2 separate regions of the Homo sapiens genome follow, and region 2 is linked to region 1. Evidence: fine-mapped expression QTL. A gene starts in region 1. The other region holds a variant in brackets. All regions are shown on one strand. Distances are between the middles of the regions.

Evidence for each region. PIP is the estimated chance that this variant, and not a neighbour inherited with it, causes the effect.
Region 2: its variant is fine-mapped to the expression of NGEF in adrenal gland (GTEx, PIP above 0.99).

What each region holds. Positions count from the first base shown.
Region 1 is chr2:233,007,686-233,020,174 of GRCh38, forward strand. It overlaps NGEF (neuronal guanine nucleotide exchange factor), which reads right to left and starts at 5,571. Exons shown (of 15, transcript NM_019850.3): 1 at 5,383-5,571. LOC101928881 (a long non-coding RNA gene) reads left to right here and starts at 4,929. Exons shown (of 3, transcript NR_136325.1): 1 at 4,929-5,284; 2 at 5,455-5,562; 3 at 8,022-8,200.
Region 2 is chr2:232,895,057-232,907,545 of GRCh38, forward strand. All of the region lies in intron 5 of NGEF (neuronal guanine nucleotide exchange factor), which reads right to left. Among named protein-coding and RNA genes, the nearest start is that of SNORC, 31 kb to the left of the region's middle. RefSeq lists enhancers at 5,353-5,978, 5,979-6,602, 6,484-7,683, 9,646-10,291, 10,292-10,936. The variant T/C (reference allele first, on the strand shown) is at 6,345.

The sequences.
Region 1 (12,489 bases):
GTTGATTTTAGATTGAGCATCCAAACGACTTCATTATGACCCTGAGCTCCATTTCTTACCCTTGACTTGGAACCCAAGGTGGCCAATGGCGAATGACTTTGCTCTTGATTTAGGAATGCTTCCAAAGAGGCCAGAAATCTGTAGAAAGTTGCAAGTGACTGCTCTGATATCTCAGGCACCAGGAAAAGTTGTCCAGGCGCCAGATGCCCTTTTCAATCCAGAAACAACTTTAAAATCATTTTAAAGTCCAAAGCTAATTTCCTAAAAAGGAACTTGGCAGAAAGGAAGGCTTTCCTCCAACGCTCAAGAATCCACCAAGGAATGTTTTTCTCACTCAGATGAGAGCAAAACTGTCTTGATCTTTGTCCTCACTCTCATGAGTGGATTTATGACTTGGGAGCATCCTGAAAAATAAAACCCATATGTGAGGGTTCTAAAAACTTCAAATACTTGGAAATTTTTCACCCCATTGGTGGGATTTAATAGGAATCTATTTTCGCTCAGCAACACTGAGTGTATCAGCTGAGAGTAGGAAATTGAGTTTTCTTGATCTGCTTATGTGGATTGCGGTAAAGGGTATGGAGGCAGTTGTGGGGGTCTGAAATGATGGTGGAGAGCTTGGGAGAGGAGCAGGCAGTTTTGCCATCTTTTCACTTTGGGCCCAGAGAGCAATTGCATCCAGCAATTGCTTGTTGATGGGCTGCATGAGGTACTCTCCAGGGATTTGGCCTTCATGGAGTTCACTGTCATGTAGCCTGAAAGACTGATACAAGCAGGTTGCACTAACTTGTACATAAGATAGAGCAACACTCCAAAAGTCAGCACCTTGGGACTGACCCTGGCCACTTTGGGGCGGGACCTGGGGGTCAAGGGCCTTAGGCCCAGCTTGCCTTCCATATCCCCTGTCACTGCCTCTGTGGTTCCCAAGCTTCTCTCATCCCTTGAAGGGCACTGTCCAAGTTGCTTGCCCTTCTGCAGAGCCTATATTTTGAAGGATTTGTCTCTGGTAGGAAACATACTCATTAACTAATAGTGAATTGGCACCTCTGTTTCTTTTCAGTTTTTCAATAGATATTTCTTTTTCCTTTTTTTAAAAAACTTTACCATCTGCATCTTTTTTTTTTTTTCTTTTTTGAGACGGAGTCTTGCTCTGTGGCCCAGGCTTAGTGCAGTGGTTTGATCTTGGCTCACTGCAACCTCCACCTCCCTGGTTCAAGTGATTCTCCTGCCTCAGCCTCCCGAGTAGCTGGGATTACAGGTGCCACTACGCCCAGTTAATTTTTGTATATTTAGTAGAGACAGGGTTTTGCCATGTTGGCCAGGCTGGTCTTGAACTCCTGGCCTCAAGTGATCTGCCCACCTTGGCCTCCAAAAATGCTGAGATTACAGGTGTGAGCCACCACACCCGGCCCATCTTCATAATTTTTAAGTGTGCAGTTCAGTGACAATAAGTATCTTTATTCTTTTTCACTCCTTCATCCCTGCGTCCCTGCTCCACTTCCTGGCCTCCAGTAACCAGCAGTCTACTGTCTGTCATCATGAGACCCACTTCACAGTTTTAGCTCCCACATATGAGTGAGAACACGAGATATATGTCTTTCTATGCTTGGTTTATCTCATTTGACATAATGGCCTCCACTTCTATCCATGTTGCTGCCCAAAACTCCTTTTTATTGATCTATTTATTTTTAGAGATGGGGGTCTTGCTATTTTGCCCAGGCTGGATCTGAATTTGCGATCCTCCCACCTCAGCCTCCAGAGTAGCTGGGACTACAGGACACCCCACTGCACCCGGTTCATATACCCATTTTTAAACTCATCAGCAACTTGGGGCCAGGTGCAGTGGCTCACTCTTCTAATCCCAGCACTTTGGGAGGCCAAGGTGGGAGGATTGCTGGAGTGTAAGAGTTTGGGATGAGCCTGGGCAAGATGGTGAGAACCCATCTCTACAGAAAAAAAAAAAAAGTAAAACTCCTGGATGATTGGAGGTCAGAGCTTCTAGCTTTGGGAGACATGGTGCTGGTGCATGAAGCTCCAGCCCAAAGTGAAGGCAACTGAGGCACAGCCACCAGGTGCAGGGTGCAGAAGTGAGGGATGAATTTCCCATGGGACACGCTGGCCATCCAGACCCCCACTCTCATCTCTGTGGACCTCTGGGGTCCTGGCATCTTGGGTTGGGCCATCCCCTCCACCTTCCCTCCACTCCACCTGTCCTGTCTCTCTTTTTTTGAATTGGAGTCTTCCTCTTGTCACCTTGCCTGTAGTGCAATGGCGTGAACTTGGCTCACTGCAACCTCTGCCTCCTGGGTTCAAGCCATTCTCCTGCCTCAGCCTCCTGAGTAGCTGCGATTACAGGGGTCCACCACCATGCCAATTTTTGTATTTTTAGTAGAGATGGGGTTTCACTATGTTGACCAGACTGGTCTTGAACTTCTGACCTCTGGTAATCCATGCGCCTCAGCCTCCCAAAGTGCTGGGATTACAGGTGTGAGCCAGCACGCCCAGCTGGCATCTTTTAAACAGACCTCATGCCTCCCCTGTCTCTGCCTCCACTGGCCCAACCCTTACTGCAGGGCTCCCTCCCTTTTGCTAAAACCCTGCTGTCCCTTCACCTGGAATGTGCTATCTGTGAACGTATGCTATTTAGAGAACCTGGAGCATTCATTCTGAGTGAGTGTGAAAAGAATTACTACCTTATTTTCAAGGTAGTAATGCTTGCTTTATAATACATCAAACCACACCCCCAGTTCTTCTCCTCCTCCTGGAAAATCATTAATAAGTGATGGAAGATTGTTGAATGATGGCCAGCTCAGAGGCCACCTCCTCCATGCAGGCCTTGCTGATCATCCATCCCTTTGATGGTGCCCATCCTCCTCATTTGAACGTGTGATTTTTTTTTTTCCTTGTCCACAGGCAAAGTGAGTTGAGGCAGGAAGATTGTGAGATGGCCTCACCCAGGCTCCCAGGTCCTTAATCAACCACCTGAGCTAGTTTCCCAAAAGCAGCCCACAGAGGGTGCTCCAGCAAATGGCCCCTCCTCAGTGCTCAGACCCCATGTGGTCTCCCACGGCCCTGGCCTCCAGGATGGCTGCCAAACAAAGGGAGGAGGAGTAAGGCTGAAGTCCTCAGCCTTCTGGGGTGGGTCCTCCAGTCTGGAGGCAGAATTCCACCCCCTGGTCTGACCTCTCCCAAGGTGGGGAGAGGTGGTCCCAGGCCAAGGGAAGGAATTTTTCCTGAGGCCCAGCAGCCTCCTGAAGACACCATCATGGTAGCAGAGGGGGCTTAGGTGCGGGGAGAAGGGGGGTCTGAAAAGAGGCAGCCCATCCAGGCTCAGAGATGGAACCCCCTGCTCCGCTGGGCCACGGTGCCTCTCAGCCTCAGGATCCTATCACCGTTGTTGGGGTGAGAGGGCTGGTGTGCTCTTTTCACCAAGCGGGGTTTCTGGCCTGGCCTCGGGGGTGTGGGACACAGCATCGCTTCATCTCCACTAGCCTGAGGGCCACCATTGTCCCATCTGTGTCCCCAGCCCCACTTCAAAGCCTCACACATACACTGTGCACAGCAATTATCTATGAAGGAGTAAAGGAATTTTTGCCATTGGGGTTGTGCTGGGGGGTGACTTCAGAGCATCAGAGCTGACTCCTTACTCGGGAAGCAATGGGCCCATGTAGATGGGGAAGGGACGTCATCTTGGGAGACGGGATGTCCGACTTGGTGCTGGTGGCTCACCAGCTTCTTGGGACAAACAGCAGCTCCTGCGCCCCTGGTAGAGCCAGCAGGCTTGGGTGGTTAGGTTTGGTCTCCTCTGAGAGGCTCTGGGTGGCCCCACAACATCTGGGCTATTTTGTTACTGGTACAAGCTTCCGGTCTCCCACAGGCCAAGGGAAGTTCTTAAAGCAATGAAAAAAAAAAAAAAAAAGGAACAGAGACAGAGTCTTGCCAGGTTGCCCAGGTTGGAATGCAGTGATATGATCATAGCCCACCGCATGACTTCTGGGCTCAAGCAGCCCTCCTGCCTCTGCCTCCTGAGTGGCTGAGACTACAGGCATGCATCAGCTCTTCTTAAAGCAATTCATCTTCCCCCATGTCTAGCCTCATCTGTGTCCCCAGCCCCACTGGGGCAGAAAGCTGTGGAATGTTACTCACACTGTCATTGGATCAACCCCTGGCTTTCCTGTGGGGATCCCCTCCCTGGGAGGGGTTCCCATGACAATTTGGGCTCCAGAAAGGGATGTGGGAGGAGAGTGCGGTGGAGGGAGGTGGTCTGTGGTCTCCCTTCATGGACCAGAAAGCTTGACCCCCAAGGGGACCCTGGCTTCTACTTCCTCAGAGCTAAGCAGTGCCAAGGGGCAGCCTGAGACATGGGCAAAGGGGAAGCCTAAATGGAAAAAGAGAGAGAGAGAGAGAGAAAGAGAGAAGGGGCAGGGAGGACAAAGACACATGGCAAGTGTCCAAGCTGGAACATTCCCACCAGTGGCCTTATTGCATTAAGGATTTTCCCAAAAAGCAGAAATACACTGATAGTCAATGGAACATAGCAGAGCTGTCACGAGCCCAGGAAACACAAGTCCCACCTCTACACAGCCAGAGACTGTGTGACTGTCCCAAATTTTAAATCAAGATAGACAATAAGAACCTACCACTTTCACATCCAAGAAAACTGTGTCCCTACACATTTCAGTCACACCGTGCTGTGGCTTGAGGCCAGCCAGATGCAAAAATCAGGAAGGTTCTGAGGGGTAGGGCCTTCTGTCTTTCTGAAAGGGGCCCCTGAGCGGAGGGGGCAGTGCTGGGGGAGCTAAAGCGCAGTGGGCTGTCACTTCACGACTATGACTTCTGTTTCCCAAGTGCACTTCCTGACCCTGAGATTTGTGCCATGGCACACAGGAATCAGGGCACTTCCGTTTACATATACGCTCATTATCAGGACTGGCGTCGTGGGTGTGGGGCCTGGGCAGTCACAGGGCCCTGTTCTTAGAAGGTGCCCCGGCTTGCTTTAATGCTGTGTTGTTGTCCTTTTGAAAGCCTTACTATTTTAACAAGGGGCCCTGCATTTTTATATTGCACAGGGCCCTGCAATTATGCAGCCATTCCTGCTTTTGATCTCACTTACCCCACAGCCATAATGGAAGAGCGCCTGGAAGGAGTCCTTATCCTGATTCCCAGATGGTGAAACTGAGTGCCAGGAGGGGCAGTGCTGAAGCCGAGACCAGACAGGATCCCTCGGGTGGAATCCAGGGCTGCTGTTTCTCTTGGGGGCTCCTCCTCAGTGAATGGATGGGTGGTAATCTCCTTTCCTACCTGTCCTAGCGGTAGCCTCTGTTCCTTCTCTTGTTTTATCTCATTTTATTTTTTTAAAAAATACCAAAACCATTCTCTCACCTGCCAGAGAGGAGCTCATAGGAGTTGGGCTTCCTCAGAGAGTGTTCCTCCCTCGTCCCCTGTCCTGTCCAGGCACCTGCGAGCAGGATGGTGTGTCCCCGGCTAAATCCACAGGCGCTCCACTCTGTCCCAGAGAGCCCACAGCCAAAAACTTCGTCCTGTCCTGGAAAAGCTTCACTGGTAAGCATTCCCGACCTTTAGACCTGCCTTGGCCCATAGCTGGCCACGAGCCCATAACGATCACTTCCCGGCTGGGTGTTTACCTTCCTGGGCCCCATGGGTTGAGCCAGGGTGGCAGCCACATACCTGACACAAAAGTGGTGCAGGAGGGAAGGGCTATCTGAGGGGAAGGCTGGGCATGGCTGGAATACCCGCCGCCCGCCCAGTGCAAGATAATGCTGATGGTCACACCAAGAGGGGCCCGTGGCTCAGCTGGCCCACCAACCCCAAGCATTGGCCAAGCCAGCTGCACGGCCCTCAAATCTGAGATTTGGGAGAGGCTTTGGGGTCCTCCAGGGTTCTAGTCACTTCCTGCCATGGCCATCTGGCCTTAACTCAATCACTTCCAGGCATGGAACACTCACTGCTTTGTAAGGCATCTTGCTCCATTATTATTATTATTATTATTATTATTATTATTATTATTATTCCCTCTAATAGCTTCCTTTAATCCAGTGCTTACTACATGACAGGCACTGGGCTAAGTACATTACATAATCTATGTAATCCTTGTGTTGTCACTATGACCAGAGAATCATGCCCATTTTAAAGATGCAGAAACAGAGGCTCAAGAAATTGATCATCTTGCTCAAAGCCCCACAGCTAGTAAGTTGGGGATCCAGGATTCAAACCCAAGCCAACTAGTATCAAAACCACTACCATCATTTGCCAAGTTTAATTGCTACATCATCCATCTTTATATAAAACTCAAATCAGCGTTTGTTTTAGCTATCTGTTCTGGAAACAAATTAACTCAAAGTGTGTGGCTTGAAATAACACTCATTTGTCATCTCAGTTTCTGTGGCTAGAAGTCTGGGCACTGCTTGGCTGGGTTCTCTGCTCAGGGTTTCTCATAAGTTGCCATCCAAGTGTTGGAGGGGCTGAGGTCTCATCTCATGGCTCCACTAGGGGGGATCCACTTCCAAGCTGCTGGTGTTGGCAGGATTCAGTTTCTTAGGGCTGTAGGATGAAGGCCTCAGCCCCTCTCAGCTGTCAGCTGTGGCCACTATCAGTCCTTTGCCATGTGGGCCTCTCCGCCCTGGCAGCTCGTTGCATCAGAGAGGGCTATGGAGAGAGTCTGGGAAGAGGTAGGTCAGTCTTTTGTAATATACTCAAGGATGTGATATTCCATCACTTCTGGCATATTCTACTCGTTAGAAGGAAGTCATCAGGCACAGCCTACACTCAAAGGTAGGGGATTACACAGGGCACAATACCAGGGGTGGGGGTCCCTGAGGGCCATCTTTGAAAGTTCCCACAGCCATCTGATTGCCACAAAACATGGGTTTCAGTTTTGTCCCTGAAAGCCAGATTGAAGTAGTCTCTCATCTATTCTCTCACCCATCCATCCACCCATCCACCCATCCATCCACCCATCCACCCATCCATCCGTCCATCCATCCATCCACCATCCATCCACCCATCCATCCATCATCCACCCATCCACCCATCCATCCACCCATCCATCCATCCATTATCCACCCATCCACCCATCCATCCACCCATCCACACTTCCATCCACCCACCCATCCATCCACCCACCCTTCCATCCATCCATCCACCCACCATCTATCCATCCAACCATCCATCCATCCATCCATCCATCCATCCATCCATCCATCCATCCACCCAACCATCTACTCATCCATTCATCCACCCACTCATCCACCCATTCATCTACCCAACCATCTACTCATCCATTCATCCACCCACTCATCCACCCATTCATCTACCCATCCATCTACTCAACTACCCATCCACCCACCCATTCATCCATCCACCCATCCATCTATCCACCCATCCACCCATCCATCTATCCACCCATCCACCCATCCATCTATCCACCCATCCATCCACCATCCATCCATCCACCATCCATCCCTTCACCCATCCATCCATCCACCCACCATCTATCCATCCATCCACCCACCCATCCACCCACCAATCCACCCACCCACCTACTCATCCATTCATCCACCCACTCATCCACACATCCACCCACTTATCCACACATCCATCTACCCATCCATCTACTCATCCACCCATCCACCCACCCATTCATCCATCCACCCATCCACCCATCCAGTCATCCACCCATCCATCCACCCATCCACCCATCCATCTATCCATCCACCATCCATCCATCCACTCATCCACTTACCCATATATCCATCCAGCCATCCATCCACCCATCCACCCATCCATCTATCCATCCACCATCCATCCATCCACTCATCCATTTACCCATATATCCATCCAGCCATCCACCCAGCCATCCACCCATTTATCCAACCTTTCCTTCATTCATTCAACAAACATTTGAGCAGGGCACTATAAACCAGATCCCGCATTAGGCTCAAGAGATATTAAAATAAGTGCATTAACTCCCTCTTTCCCCTCTCTGTCCCTTGCCACCAAAGCCTTCCAACAGAGCCTTCCTGCATGCCGAGGTTGAAGAGGTGTCCGCTGAGTGCTCTGTCTTCTGGGAATTTTGGCTGTTTCCTGCAACCTATCATCAGATGCCACACTTATGAGACCCTCATCCTTCTGCTCACTCTCTTCCATTGTTTCACTCATTAAAAATATATATTTTAAGCAATTCCTAAATGTAAGTGTTTGTAGCGGGTGTGTGTGTGTGTGTGTGTGTGTGTGTGTGTGTGTGTGTGCGTGTAGGAATAGATCTGAGTGGGACCATGGGGATGCAGCAGGGACCTCCTGGGTGGGCAGGGCCAGCAAGGGGCACAGGTAGAGGCCTGAGCCCTGGACTCACCTGCCTGTGGACCTGTCCCCACAACCCAGCTCCCCAGGCCCAGGGCTGAGGGAATGAACTCGTGAGAAGAGGGTGAAGGGGCCAGTGGGGTTGTCATGTTCAGGTGCCCAGTGGGATGACTTTGAAAATTAAAATTATAAGTCTTTCACGCAGGAGACCATTTCTTTCCTATTGAGCACCTAGTACCAGTAGGTACTGTGCTAGGCCCTGGGGCTGCAATTGGGTGGCTTTCTAAAGTGAATCTAATTTCCTTTTTTGTCCTTTGCTCTATCTCACTGCCTCAGAACAGGCCCCCATCAACTCCTACCTGACAATTGCAATGTCCTTTAAATGGGTCTCTTGGCTTCAGTCTCTCCCAATTGCTTCCAGCCCTCAGCACCCCATCCCACTCAGTAGCCATGTGAATCTGCTGACACAGATCTGATCTTGTCACTTTCTTGCTCAAAAACATTTTATATAACCTACGTTAACAGTTTTATGAGTGTTCTTCCAGAAATGTTCTATATATACATAATCTCTACCTCCCTGCCTCTCTCTCCCTCTCTCTCTCTCTCCCTTGCATGTCTGTGTGCATACACACACACACACACACACACACACACACACACACACCTATATCCTTTGTTTTACTTAGGCAGGATCTCAACATGTATGTTCTGTTCTGTATTACTGTTTTGGTGGTTTTCCAATTTAGCACACTTTGAAGTTCTTCACTGTTTTTAATGGCTGTCGGCTGTTGTGCTATAGAAATATTCTGGGATGGTACTGAGAAATCCCTTTCAGGGCCTGGGGTGTCCTTGACCCGAAGCTTTTGTGATGCTTTTCTGAGTGATAATTTTGATAGATCATTAATGAGCTTAGTAGTCATAAGCCAATTGTTTCAAAGGAATTTTCATAATTTTGCATTTGTAGGAATTGAATAATTAATATAATGAGTTTAATTCATTATAAGACTTTTTTTTTAAGATGATAAAATACCTTCTCATGTTAAGTTTGCTTTAAGGGGTGGGAAGAGGAGAAGAATCTAAATGTTTTAATTGTTATTGTTTTGGTTATTTGAAAAGTAAAATTTAAATATATAAAGATGATGGACCAGGCCTGGTTAAGAAAAAGAACTGAACAGAAGCAGGAATACTTATCAAAACACCTACTGAGTACTTGTGAACCAGGCACTGTTCTAAGTGCTTTACAAGGATTAACATGTTTAATCTTCCCTACAGTCTTAGGATGAGGAAGCCAGATCTAAAGGGGTTAAAGCTTTCCCGAGATCCCATAAATTTTCTGGAACATACAGAAATGCTGCATATATATTTTTTGTAATGTAAATATGTAATTCAATTCAAAACAAGAAAAGTACATGTTCAGGTGCCACAAATGAAGAGATAATTCTATATTTACCTCGGTAAGCTGAGTACTTTAGGGACTGTAGCATACATTCCTTATGGTGTTTGTTATAAATTAATGGTTATGGGGAAACAAGAATCAAAGCCTCTGAACTTGAACACAGCAGGAAGCTTGACGAGGTTGATTATAGATCAGAAGTAAAAAAATGTCCCAGGCCATGGATAGAAATAGAATTACCCACAAGAATGTGGAGAACAAGCTGGATCCACACATGTACTCATGATGTACAAAAATCCCAAGATGGAAATGGAGAAAAAAATTTGAGAATTTGTGACCCCTTAAGACTTATGCAGAGGCAACTAGGGGGAGGTCGCCACAATCTAGGTCACTGGTAGGAACAATTCCACCACCACACTGAAAGGATAATTCCCATTGAAGATGAGCTCATAGGCAGAAATTATAAAACATATTGGTCTTAAGGAAGACCAATATGAAGAATATAATTTATTAAACATGATAATACCAAATTGTAAAACATTTGAGAAAGTCCAACATAAAGAAATACATCCCACAAAAATGGGAGAGTTGACACATGAGAAAATAGAAACAATAGAACAATATTTAAAAAGACCTTAAAAACTAAGTATGCGTTTCATTTCAGAAGTGGGTGTGTGACATAATTACCTTCTTGGGATTTCAAAGTACAACCATTAAGACTCTCCTGGCCTCAGTCAGATGATAACAAGTTTTAGCAAACTTGGCATTCATAAGTACTTGACCTTGGATGGAGGAAAAGGTTAGAAATGTTTGTGTGTGAAGAAGGTAAGTGTATTAGTTTGCTAGGGCTGCTATAACTAATTACCACAGACTGGGAGTCTTAAGCAACAGAAACTTCTTACAGTTCTGGAGGCTGAAAGTTCAAGATCAAGGTATCAGCAGATTTGTTTTTCAGAGACCTCTCTCCTTGGCTTGCACGTGGTGGCTTTCTCTCTGTGTTCTGTCTTTCCTCTGTGTGTGCACACGCTTTTGTGTCCTAATTTTCTCTTCTTATAAGGACACCAATCTTATTGGATTAGGGCCCACCCGTATGACCACATTTTACTTTAATTACCTCTTTAAAGGCCCCATTGGCCAGGCACAGTGCCTCACGCTTGTAATCCCAGAACTTTGGGAGGCTGAGGCAGGTGGATCACCTGAGGTCAGGAGTTCGAGACCAGCCTTACCAACATGATGAAACCCCGTCTCTACTAAAAATACAAAATTAGCTGGATGTGGTGGCACACATCTGTAATCCCAGCTACTCAGGAGGCTGAGGCTGGGGCAATTGCTTGAAACTGGGAGGTGGAGGTTGCAGTGAGCCAAGATTGCATCATTGCACTCCAGCCTATGCAACAGAGTGAGACTCCATCTCTAAATAAATAAATAAATAAATAAGGCTCTATCTTCAAATATAGTCACATTCTGAAGTACTGGGGGTGAAGATTTCAACGTATGAATTTTGAGATTACACAATTTAGCCCATAACAGCTCAAATGCCTTTGTTTCTGCTTTTAAATCTCAATCAACAAATCACTAATTGTGTGACCTTGGAATAGTCACATAATCACATTTTGCCTCATTTTCTGCTTTGCAAAATTGGGGTGATAAACAGCACCTGTTTCATAGAGTTGCTGTTAGAATTAAATAAATTAATGTATGTAAAACTGTTAGAAATAAATACACTTAAAGTGCTTAATGAGATAAAGGAATACAATCTATCAAATAAGAAAAGAAAATTATTATTTTTTAAGGTAGAAGTTGTAGAAATAAAAAATATTGATGTAGGCCGGGCACAGTGGCTCATGCCTGCAATCCTAGCACTTTTGGAGGCCAAGGCAGGTGGATCACTTGAGGTCAGGAGTTTAAAACCAGCCTGGCCAACATGGTGAAACCCTGTCTCTACTAAATATATAAAAAAATTAGCTGGGCCTGGTGGCGGGTGCCTGTAATCCCAGCTACTTGGGAGGCTGAGGCAGGAGAATCGCTTGAACCCAGGAGGCGGAGGTTGCAGTGAGCCAAGATTGTGCCACTGCACTCCAGCCTGGGTGACAGAGTGAGACTCCATCTCAAATATACATATAAAATATTAAATAGAGATGACTTTAGATTTAGTGAGATTTAAAGGGAATGCTTCCAGTTTTTGCCCATTCAGTGTGATACTGGCTGTGGGTTTGTCATAAATAGCTCTTATTATTTTGAGATACGTCCCATCATGCACACGTATGTTTATTGTGGCACTATTCACAATAGCAAAGACTTGGAACCAACCCAAATGTCCATCAATGATAGACTGGATTAAGAAAATGTGGCACATATACACCATGGAATACTATGCAGCCATAAAAAAGGATGAGTTCATGTCCTTTGTAGGGACATGGATAAAGCTGGAAACCATCATTCTCAGCAAACTATCACAAGGGCAAAAAACCAAACACTGCATGTTCTCACTCATAGGTGGGAATTGAACAATGAGAACACTTGGACACAGGAAGAGGAACATCACACACCGGGGCCTGTCGTGGGGTAGGGGGAGTGGGGAGGGATAGCATTAGGAGATACACTTAATGTAAATGACAAGTTAATGGGTGCAGCACACCAACATGGCACATGTATACATATGTAACAAACCTGCAGGTTGTGCACATGTACCCTAGAACTTAAAGTATAATAATAATAATAAAAAAGATTTAGTGAGATTTAGTGATTTGGAAGAGATATCTGAGAAAATTACCCAG
Region 2 (12,489 bases), 110 kb before region 1:
CTGCTGCAGGGGCAGCTGGTAACACCTGCGGCCGGGAATGGTAGTGAGGCCACTCTTCCTAGGGAGCACACTACCCCTAAGGTGACAGGGCACGGAGGCTACTCCCTGTGAGAGAACACTTACCATACTGACAACTGGAGATAGCCTAAGATCCAAAATATGAAACAAGACAAAAACGAGAGAGGTCAGGCTGGGCGTGGTGACTCACTCTTGTAATCCCAGCACTTTAGGAGGCCGAGGCGGGCAGATCACTTGAGGTCAGGAGTTCAAGACCACCCTGGCCAACATGGTAAAACCCTGTCTCTACTAAAAATACAAAACTTAGCTGGGTGTGGTAGCACATGCCTGTAATCCTAGCTGCTTGGGAGGCTGAGGCATGAGAATCACTTGAACCTGGGAGGCAGAGGTTGCAGTGAGCCCAGATCACGCCACTGCACTCCAGCCTGGGTGACAGAGTGAGACTCTGTCTTAAAAAAAAAAAAAAAAGGTCAGCCACACACCTGAGCCCGCACAGCTGCCAAGGGTGGCTTGGCCCATGCTCTGGGTGTGCTAGTGGGTGCGAAAGTCAGCAGGTGGGAGGAATCCTGTTCCTCCACGCCCAGCAGAAAAGCGTCAGGGGAAACCGGCCAGTGTCAAGCACGAGTGTCACGGGTGGAATCTGGGGGGATGTTTACCTTTTTACCTTTTGAATCGCCTGATAATTTAACAATGAACATATATCATGGTCTGATTTTATAATGGAACCAATAAGGTGATTTTCATTTTGGAAGAGAGAAAGAAATCCATAACCTGATCAATTTTCTGGAGGTGCCTTTATTCGATGTCATGATTATCACCTGATTGCTGAGCCTCTGAATAGCTGACTAGGATCTAACAGCAGTTCTGCATCTCATGGGTCATTCTGTAAGGGCAGGTGGCAGATCCCGGCTCACCTTCCTCCCTTGTTTACAAATCAACCCAATGACCCACCTTCCTCTTCCCCGTCACCCTCTGATACTTAGGGCGGGTTCAGGTCCCACAGTCGCTTCCCAGGAGGGACAGCAGAGTGGGTTGAACTGTGGCCCCCACAGAAGCTACATCCATGTCCTAACCCCAGCACCTGTGAATGGGACCTTATTTGGGAAAAGGGTCTGTGCAGACATAATTGAGTCAAGGAGCTCAAGATGAGATCATCCTGGGTTAAGGTTGGCCCCAAACCAATAATGGGTGTCTTTATAAAAGAGGCCAAGGGAGATTTAATAATGTGACACAGACACACAGAGAAGGCACAGACAGAGATGGGACTGATACAGCCACCAGCAGTTGGAGTTGGCCAGAAGGATCCTCTGCAGAGCTGTCAGAGGGAGCACAGCCTGCCCAGGCTGTGGGAGAATCAATCCTGTGATCCTCTGCCACCCAGTTTCTGGTAATTTGTTATGGCCACAGAGGAGGGGTGGAAACAGAGCAGTGAGGAGCCTGGGGTAAGGGTGAGGGTGGGGGTGAGGGTAGGGGTGAGGGTGGGGTAGGGGTGAGGGTGAAGGTAGGGGTGAGGGTGAGGGTAGGGGTGTGAGGGTAAGGTTGGGGTTGAGGGTAGGAGTGGGGGTGAGGGTAGGGGTTGGGGTGGGGGTAGGGGTGGGGGTGGGGGTAGGGATGGGGGTGGGGGTAGGGGTGGGGGTAGGGGTGAGTGCAAAAGTAGGGGTGAGGGTGAAGGTAGGGGTGAGGGTGAGGTTAGGGGCGTGGGTGAAGGTAGGGGTGAGGGTGAAGGTAGGGGTGAGGGTAGGGGTAAGGGTGAGGGTAGGGTTGAGGGTGGGGGTGAGGGTGACGGTGGGTATAGGGGTGAGGGTGTGGGTAGGTGTGAGGGTGGGGGTAAGGGTAAAGGTAGGGATGAGGTGAGGGTAGGGGTGAGGGTGAGGGTACAGGTGAGGATGGGGGTAGTGGTGGGGTTAAGGGTGAGGTAGGGGTGCGGGTGAGGGTAGGGGCGAGTGTGGGGGTAGGAGTGGGGGTGAGGTTAGGGGTAAGGGTGGGAGTAGGGGTGGGGTGAGGGGTGAGGGTTGGGATGGGGTGGGGGAAGGGGTGAGGGTAGGGATGGGGTAGGGGGTGGAGGTGGGGGTCTGGCCCCTTCCCCAGGGTCCTGCCCATCCCCTGCCTCACTCCTTTTAGGGCCGCCCTCCGGTTTCTCCACTCATCAGAGCCCTGACCCAGGGCCCAGGGCTTTGGCATGAAAGCAGGAGCTCCAGGGTTAGAGGCATTTGTTCCCAGAACACAGTGGGCCCTGGAGTGGTGGGGTTTTGCAGGCTGTTTCACTTAATCCTCCCAGGTCCCCCAGAAAGGACAGACAGAAGCTCCCATTTTACCAAAAGGAAACAGACACAGAGAAGTGAAGTTGCATCCAGAAAGTCACATGGCTGGATGCTGGAGGAGTGGAGATGCTGCCACCTCCCAGGTAGCGCAGGGGTTTGCTGGGCATTTGATGCCCGCCTGCAGGAGCTCTCACTGCTGCTTCCCTGCAAAGCTCTGCCCACCCACCCACCTGGCAGAGCACTCTAAAATAAGGGACGAATCTGGAAGCTGGGAACACCCCACAGAGAGTTCACATTGATGTCACTCCAGGGCCAGCGGCCAACTGCAGACCCCGAACCACCATCAGTAGCCAGGGCCCACCCGGCCCCCAGTGTCTGCACCTCACTTGAGACAGTGACAGTCAGAGATGAGACGCTGAAATGAGCCTGTGGCCTCTCCGTGGCCATCCCCACGTCGCATCTGCCTCATCTACCTAAAAAGCAGCCACAGCAAGCACACAGCAGCACCTCACTTGAGACAGCGACGGTCAGAGACGAGACGCTGAAATGAGCCTGTGGCCTCTCCGTGGCCATCCCCACGTCGCATCTGCCTCATCTACCTAAAAAGCAGCCACAGCAAGCACACAGCAGCGGGCCTCACAGCAGCAGACCTGCAGCCCAGCGCTGACTGGCAGCAGACCCCGAGTCGGCCAGTGTCCACCGACACAAAAGTGAGGCTATGACGGGCAGCCAGTTTCCCAGAAGCTTCTCAGCTACAGATGCTGTTATGAATTCATTTTCCTGCTGCTAAATTTAAGTTTCCTAAGAAAATGTGAAGCAGTTACAGCTCACAAGTTCCAAGCAAACATAACTCACAAAACTGATACGAATGATACCAAGGGGAAAACCCCCATGCCCACAGCGCCACATCACAGAAAAGCATGCCATTAAACCACATGGCCCTGAAGGATGCCTGCTAGAGACACCTGGGATGACACCCTGGCTCTGGATCACCCGGATCTTCTGGCCGACAGCATCTCTGTCCTGATCTTCAGGGCCAGGGGAAATGGCAGGTAGGGCCTTTCAGCTGTGGGCCTTGGCCTGAATCCCTGCTAATCGGTATGGCTGAGGCTCATTCCCCAGAACTCTCACCCCTCCTCATCCATTTACAGGCAACGTCACCTGTGAATTTTAGCTTCCAGGATGTTTGTCTTCATTTTGTATGTCAAATTGTTTGTCATGTCGATATGGCTATCTTTTCCTTATCGATATTACTTTTGCTCTCATTTAAGCCTCTACATGGCAGCATAGAGCTGACGAGGGATCCAGGCTCTGCTCGCTCTTCATTCATTCACTCGTTCGTTCCTTCGTTCCACAAATGCTCACTGAGCATCTGCTGAGCACCAGGCACTGGTCTAGGCACTGGGCACTCGGCTGTGAACACAGCAAGACTGGCTTCCCATGGCACTTTCGTCCCAGGGTAGTGGAAGGAAGTGTGAGCCTGTGAGGGCGAGTGGGAATGAGTGTATGTGTGCATAGACATACGCGAGTCAGGGTGTGAGCATTAAGGAATGAGAGTGCATGTGTGGGAAATTGTGGGTGAATGTGTATATGGGTGTGGCTGTGAGAGCATGTAAGTGAATGTGTGTGTGAATGCATGTGTGTGTGTGAATGTGAGTGTGAATGGGTGTATGTGTGTTAACATGTGTGAGTGAATATGAGGGTGGGTGTGGATGTGTGGATGTGTGTGTAAATGCATTGTGTGTGAATGTGTAAATGAGTATGTATGAAGGTGGGTGTGAATGTGTGCATGTGTGTGAAAGAGTATGAGAGTGTGTGACAGTGGGTGAATGTGTATGAAGGTGAGTGTGAATGTGTGTGAATGAGAGTATGTGACTGTGTGTGTGAATGTGTGCATATGAGGGGGGCGTGTGAACGTACGTGTCACTACAGAAGCTCCTCCTCAGGGAATGCGCATGTAGCCTGGACCCGGCTGTCTGAATCTCTGCTTGGTCTGGGAATGGCGCTCTCAGCTCTGTTGCTATCTGCCAGTATTCACGTCACACTTCCTGGCTTTCCTAAGCCCATTCCTGGCCTGGATTCCTTGTGAAGATTCAACTCCGGTCCAGCCTGGGCTTTCTTCAGGCTCCTCTTTTGTGATCTCTTGCTGATGGGTCAGGGGTCTCCTTTGGTTTTCACACACATGCTCTCACAGTCACTCATATACATGTTCACTCACATTCACTTACACACATGCTCTCACAGTCACTCATATACACGTTCACTCACATTCACTCACACACACATGCTCTCACAGTCACTCATATACACGTTCACTCACATTCACTCACACATGCTCTCACAGTCACTCATACACACATTCACTCACACACGCTCTCAGTCACTCATATACACGTTCACTCACATTCACTTACACACGTGCTCTCACAGTCACTCATATACACGTTCACTCACATTCACTCACACACACGCTCTCAGTCACTCATATACACGTTCACTCACATTCACTCACACACACACGCTCTCACAGTCACTCATATACACGTTCACTCACATTCACACACATGCTCTCACAGTCACTCATATACACGTTCACTCACATTCACTTACACACATGCTCTCACAGTCACTCATATACACATTCACTCATTCACTCACACACGCTCTCACAGTCACTCATATACACGTTCACTCACATTCACTCACACACACACGCTCTCACAGTCACTCATATACACGTTCACTCACATTCACTTAGACACATGCTCTCAGTCACTCATATACACGTTCACTCACATTCTCACACACACACGCTCACAGTCACTCATATACACGTTCACTCACATTCACACACACGCTCTCACAGTCACTCATATACACGTTCACTCACATTCACACACACACGCTCTCAGTCACTCATATACACGTTCACTCACATTCACACACACACGCTCTCAGTCACTCATATACACGTTCACTCACATTCACTCACACACGCTCTCACAGTCACTCATACACGTTCACTCACATTCACTTACACACACACGCTCTCACAGTCACTCATATACACGTTCACTCACATTCACTTACATGCTCTCACAGTCACTCATATACACGTTCACTCACATTCACTCACACACACGCTCTCACAGTCACTCATATACACGTTCACTCACATTCACTTAGACACATGCTCTCACAGTCACTCATATACACGTTCACTCACATTCACTCACACACACGCTCTCACAGTCACTCATATACACGTTCACTCACATACACACACGCTCTCACAGTCACTCATATACACGTTCACTCACATTCACTCACACACACACGCTCTCAGTCACTCATATACACGTTCACTCACATTCACACACACGCTCTCAGTCACTCATATACACGTTCACTCACATTCACTCACACACACACGCTCTCACACTCATGCACACATTCACTCACACACACACATGCTCTCACACAATCACCCACAGAGGCACTGGGAGCCACGCTGCCCGTGGGGCCAGGACCAGGACCTGAAGCCAGGTGAGCAGGCCCCCTCTCAGGCAGCGCGGGCCACGGGGCTGCTCTGGGGTGGTGACGTCCGGCGGCCTCAGATCAGCCAGGTCCCGGAGTTAGGGCCGCCTACACCACCCTGTTCAAGTCACACATTTGAAAAACAAAAGAGACCCATCAGCAAGAGGTCACAAAAGAGGAACCAGGACACCAAGAAAAGTCTGCAGGAAGCCAACCTGCTCCTGATGGAGAAAGGCGGAAGCTTTACCAGCTCTAACACCCAAAGAGCGACGGGCTTTTACGCAGCCCGCGGGCCCCAATTCCCTGTTACTTAAGGCAGTTCAGCTTGTCCTGCAGTTCACGGTCAAACATGGGCCATGCTGCCTGGCCGGCCGGGACTACAGTGTCTGTCCTCGGAGTCCCACTCCTGCCTCCGCACTCGGATCAACCCTGCGTTCCCCACCCTCAGCAAAGCTCGAGGCTGCGCGATTTCTCCTCCCCGCTCTTTACCTACACGGTCTCCTTATGATCCAGGGTTCGCCGTGGACC[T/C]CTGGGCCGTGCATTCCAGCCTGATTTGGGTTGTTTTTTTGGCTTCTCCCGACCCCTGTGTTAACAAATCACTGCTGTCTCTGATGCTGTGACCTTCGATGCGTTGTTGCAGCTGCGTCACCAGGGTGACATCTGCGGGGGTCGGAGCCAAAGGCCAGCAGACCGTGGACTGAAGGGCGGGCTCACTGGCTGCCCTCCACCTTCCTCACGGCCAGGAAACAAAACGTAGCCCCTTCCCCACAAGGGTTCTGCGAGGTCCCTTCCCATCCACCCGTGTGCCAGGCCCTCCCCACACAGGTCACCCCCAGTCCTGGGCATCAGGGCACTGGCCTGGAGCCCAACTTAGTTCACTGGCTTTTGCCTGGAGGGAGGGAGGGGATGAAGAGAAGGCCAGGCAGAATGCCAAGGGTCTAAGGCGTCCTTCCGGGACTCCCTTAGAGGCTGTGGGGACGTCGCCGTGACACCTCAGCACAGGCCCTACCATCCAGGCTCCGTGTCTCCAGTATGCTGCTGGGAGCTATCAGGGCCACCTGGGCCGCTGAAGACCCGGCCTCAGTCTGTCCTCGGCAGGGCAGTGGCTGGGGTGTGTGTGGTACGGGGATCACCATGGCCCACTCCTCTCTCTCCTCTAGCAGCTGGGGCCAGAGCCAGAGCCAGGGGCGCAGGGCGCTCCCAAGCTCTCCACTCTCTGCTCCTGCCCCACAGAGTCCTCTTGCTGCAGCCGCCCTGGGGTGATTCACATCCTCTGTTCCCCAGGATGACTCAACAGCAAGGTCACAAAGTTGCCTCGGTGCCTGCTGCTGGTGCAGTCATTTACACTGCAGGCATCAGGATGCACGGAAGTGACTTTAAAAGGCTTCCAGTTAAGAAGAAACCCCTCAAAGGCTATCCTCCTTCTGCAGACAATGATGATGAAGTCGGACTCCAGAGCCAGAGCCCGAGCCCAGCCCGCTGCAGCGCAGTCTTTAGTGAATTCGAGGCCGGACTGAGCAGGTCCCGTGAGCAGCGTGGGGAGTGGGGGCTTGGCTGTCTGATGGGGGAGTGACAGCTAACCCCTTGGGTTGCTAAGGGACGAGGGGAGTCACATATTCAACGCAGCCATGGGATGCAGGCGCTGGGGGCCCAAACCCAAGCCTCGGCACTCACACACATCACAAATGCCAATTACTACGTTTTCTCAAGATGACCTGTTAATAAAATCATTCGCAAAAATGTTTACATGCTAAAATAAGTGTGTGTAAATTTAAAAAGACACATGCTTGAGAACATGTTCAGCCTGCCTCATGGCAAGAGAAATGTTATGTTAAAACCACAACGAGGCCGGGTGCGGTGGCTCACACCTGTAATCCCAATACTTTGGGAGGCCCAGGCGGGTGGATCACCTGAGGCCAGGAGTTCGATGGCCAACATGGTGAAACCCCGTCTCTACTAAAAATACAAAAGATTAGCCAGGCATGGTGGCCGGTGTCTGTAATCCCAGCTACTTGGGAGGCTCAGGTGGAAGAATCACTTGAACCTGGGAGGTGGAGGTTGCAGTGAGCTGAGATCGCGCCACTGCACTCCAGCATAAGTGACAGAGTGAGACTGTCTTAAAACAAAACAAAAACAAAACAAAACAAAAAATGTTTAATCTAGCACACTGGGTAAAGAGAAAATAGCTGGGTAAGGCACCACATTAGTGGCAGGGGACCAGCACACTCATATGTGGCTAGTGTGTGAAGGCAATTAGGCGATACCCTCTCAAAATTTAAAGAACATTTAACCTTTCACCCAACAATCCCACTTAGCAATTCCCTTAGCATTCCACTGTGTAGATGTTCAATCTTCCATGAGTATAAATAATGCTGCAATGAACACTCTCAGTACCCGGTATTTCCAACTGCAAATATCCATCAACAGGGACAGGTTAAATACATTATGGAACATCTAAACAGTGGAGCCCAGAAAACTGCAAAAATGAGGGTGCTCTATTTGGATGGAGATGGAAAGATATGGTCAGTATTTTAATACTAGTTTACATTTGTGTGACATGAGGGCACACACACACACACACACACACACCTGAATATGTGTCTGACGAGGGAACTGGGTGGCCCAGGACAGGAGTGGGAGAAAGACTTTCACTGAGAGTCCTTTTGCACCTTTTGAACTTCCTGTCAGGTGCATACATTTTTTAACCAAAAGATAAATTTAAAAAAATGCTACCTGCCTACTTTGCTACTTTGTTAAAACAGGTATTGGTATTTGCTTTCTAACGCCTAGCTGACGTTTTAGGTAATGGCCACGTCCACCTCAAAGCATCAAGAAAAACTCCCTGCCGTCTCCCACTGTAGGACTCATCTGCTGAATTGTTGAGGGTTTAATCTAAACAGAAAAATATATAATTCAGTAACAGTTGGTAAATTAAAGAATGATCACAATGTAATTTTTTGGATAGAGGTCCATCATATTAAAATCCTAAGTAATTTCTTTCTAAAATGCACAATTTTCTTTTGGGAGTGGGGAAAGTAAACACGCTTAAGTTGTGAAACAGGCTGGAAAACAACAAAAATACAACTCTGTATGTCAGAGGCTGTACAGATGCAGACTGAGCTGCATCGCAACTTACAGCTGTAAAAATTACAGTCCAGGCAACACAGCAAGACCCAGCATCTACCGAAAGAAAAGACAATTCGCCGCCCTGTGGTTAGGCTGCATCAGGTGACCACAGGGCCCCTTGCTTCTCGCTCCCCAGCAGGACAAAGCCATTAGTCCTGTCTGGGCATGGGGGGACCGAGCCACACCCCACAGCCTGGGCAGGCTGTGCATATATGAGTGTGTGTCCCTGCTCCCCTGGAGAGCCTCACATCATTCCAGCTCCACGCCCAGCCCACCAAGACCAGGGACCGTGGCAAGTCCATCTTTCTCTAGCTCTGCCTCCTGGGTTCAAGTGATTCTCCTGCCTCAGCCTCCCGAGTAGCTGGAACTACAGGCATGTGCCACCATGGCAGGCTAATTTTTGTATTTTTAGTAGAGACAAGGTTTCAGCATGTTGGCCAGGCTGGTCTCGAACTCCTGACCTCAGGTGATCCACCTGCTTTGGTCTCCCAAAGTGCTGGGAGTACAGGCGTGAGCCACCACACCCAGCCCCTTCCCAACCTTTTAATTTGAATCTATGCCTAATTATTTCCTCCAATTGTTGGGTTCTCAAACAGTAACTAAAACACTATCCCAGAAGGGTGGGACCAAGTGCTTCAGGACAAATTAAAAAACAAAAACTGAGGCCTAGCATGGTGGCTCACACCTATAATCCCAGCACTTTGGGAGGCTGAGGCAGGAGGATTGCTTGAGCCCAGGAGTTGGAGAATAGCCCAGGCGAAACAGCAAGACCCCATCTCTTCAAAAAATTTTTAAAGATTAGCCTGGAGTGGTGGTGCACACCTGTAGTTGCAGCTACTTGAGAGGCTGAGGCAGGACAGCTTGAGCCCAGGAGTTCAAGGCTTCAGTGAGCTGTGATCGCACCACTGCACTCCCGCCTGGGCCACAGAGTGAGACCTTGTCTCTAAATAAAAAAACAAACAAAAACAACAAACTATTAATAAGCTGAGAAAGTCCTATGCAGGAACTCTTTCCCATTTCAGCTAGATAATTTTTACTTTAAAAGGAGGAAAACAGCTCTCTCCTCTCTCCTCTCCCCTCTCCCCTCTCCCCTCTCTCTCCTCTCACCTCTCACCTCTCCTCTCCCCTTTCCACGGTCTCCCTCTCATGCCGAGCCAAAGCTGGACTGTCCTGCTGCCATCTCGGCTCACTGCAACCTCCCTGCCTGATTGTCCTGCCTCAGCCTGCCGAGTGCCTGCGATTGCAGGCGCGCGCCGCCACGCCTGACTGGTTTTCGTATTTTTTTGGTGGAAACGGGGTTTCGCTGTGTTGGCCGGGCTGGTCTCCAGCTCCTAACCGCGAGTGATCCGCCAGCCTCGGCCTCCCGAGGTGCCAGGATTGCAGACGGAGTCTCGTTAACTCAGTGCTCAATGGTGCCCAGGCTGGAGTGCAGTGGCGTGATCTCGGCTCGCTACAACCTCCACCTCCCAGCCGCCTGTCTTGGCCCCCCAAAGTGCGGAGATTGCAGCCTCTGCCGGTCCGCCACCCCGTCTGGGAAGTGAGGAGCGTCTCTGCCTGGCCGCCCATCGTCTGGGACGTGAGGAGCCCCTCTGCCTGGCTGCCCAGTCTGGAAAGTGAGGAGCGTCTCTGCCCGGCCGCCATCCCACCTGGGAAGTGAGGAGCGCCTCTTCCCGGCCGCCATCCCATCTAGGAAGTGAAGAGCATCTCCGCCCGGCCGCCCATCGTCTGAGATGTGGGGAGCGCCTCTGCCCCACCGCCCTGTCTGGGATGTGAGGAGACCCTCCGCCTGGCAGCCGCCCCGTCTGAGAAGTGAGGAGCCCCTCCGCCCGGCTGCCACCCCGTCTGGGAAGTGAGGAGCGTCTCCGTCCGGCAGCCGCCCCGTCCGGGAGGGAGGTGGGGGGGTCAGCCCCCCGCCCGGCCAGCCGCCCCGTCCGGGAGGTGAGGGGCACCTCTGCCTGGCCGCCCCTACTGGGAAGTGAGGAGCCCCTCTGCCCGGCCAGCCGCCCCGTCCGGGAGGGAGGTGGGGGGGTCAGCCCCCCGCCCGGCCAGCCGCCCCGTCCGGGAGGGAGGTGAGGGGGTCAGCCCCCCGCCTGGTCAGCCGTCCCGTCTGGGAGGGAGGTGGGGGTCTCAGCCCCCCGCCCGGCCACCCGCCCCGTCCGGGAGGGAGGTGGGGGGGTCAGCCCCCCGCCTGGCCAGCCGCCCCGTCCGGGAAGGAGGTGGGGGGGGGTCAGCCCCCCGCCCGGCCAGCCGCCCCATCCGGGAGGTGAGGGGCGCCTCTGCCCGGCAGCCCCTACTGGGAAGTGAGGAGCCCCTCTGCCCGGCCACCACCCCGTGTGGGAGGGAGGTGGGGGGGGTCAGCCCCCCGCCCGGCCAGCCGCCCCGTCCGGGAGGGAGGTGGGGGGGTCAGCCCCCCGCCCGGTCAGCCACCCCGTCTGGGAGGTGAGGGGCACCTCCCTCCGGCCACCCCTACTGGGAAGTGAGGAGCCCCTCTGCCCGGCCACCACCCCGTGTGGGAGGGAGGTGGGGGGGTCAGCCCCCCGCCCGGTCAGCCGCCCCGTCCGGGAGGTGAGGGGCACCTCCCTCCGGCCACCCCTACTGGGAAGTGAGGAGCCCCTCTGCCCGGCCACCCCTACTGGGAAGTGAGGAGCCCCTCTGCCCGGCCACCACCCCATCTGGGAGGTGTACCCAACAGCTCATTGAGAACGGGCCATGATGACAATGGCGGTTTTGTGGAATAGAAAAGGGGGCAAGGTGGGGAAAAGATTGAGAAATCGGATGGTTGCGGTGTCTGTGTAGAAAGTAGTAGACATGGGAGACTTTTCATTTTGTTCTGTACTAAGAAAAATTCTTCTGCCTTGGGATCCTGTTGATCTATGACCTTACCCCCAACCCAGTGCTCTCTGAAACATGTGCTGTGTCCACTCAGGGTTAAATGGATTAAGGGCGGTGCAAGATGTGCTTTGTTAAACAGATGCTTGAAGGCAGCATGCTCGTTAAGAGTCATCACCACTCCCTAATCTCAAGTACCCAGGGACACAAACACTCTGCCTAGGAAAACCGGAGACCTTTGTTCACTTGTTTGTCTGCTGACCTTCCCTCCACTATTGTCCTATGACCCTGCCAAATCCCCCTCTGCGAGAAACACCCAAGAATGATCAATTAAAAAAAAAAAAAAGAAAAGAAAAAAAAGAAAAAAAAAAAAAAAGGAGGAAAACATACTATAGCATTTTGTTCTGAAATCCTGGCTCCCCTGTGACTGATTAAGCCTACCAAAAGGCCATCATTATAGGGTGTTTTCCTTGTGTGAACAGTAATTCAGCACGACCTGCTGCTTTTGTAGCTAAAGAAAAAGAGAGTTCCTGACAACAGATTGTACTGGCAGTCCAAGTTGCCTGTCTTGCTTTGATAAATAGACTGAAAAAAAGATCTGATACAGAAGTCACTGATTTGGAACATGCAATCTGAAGATCCCGGTTTTGTGTCGGTTACCAGATATTAACAAAAGGGAAGCACATGAAGGTCTTTAACATAAAAAGACGATAAAAAA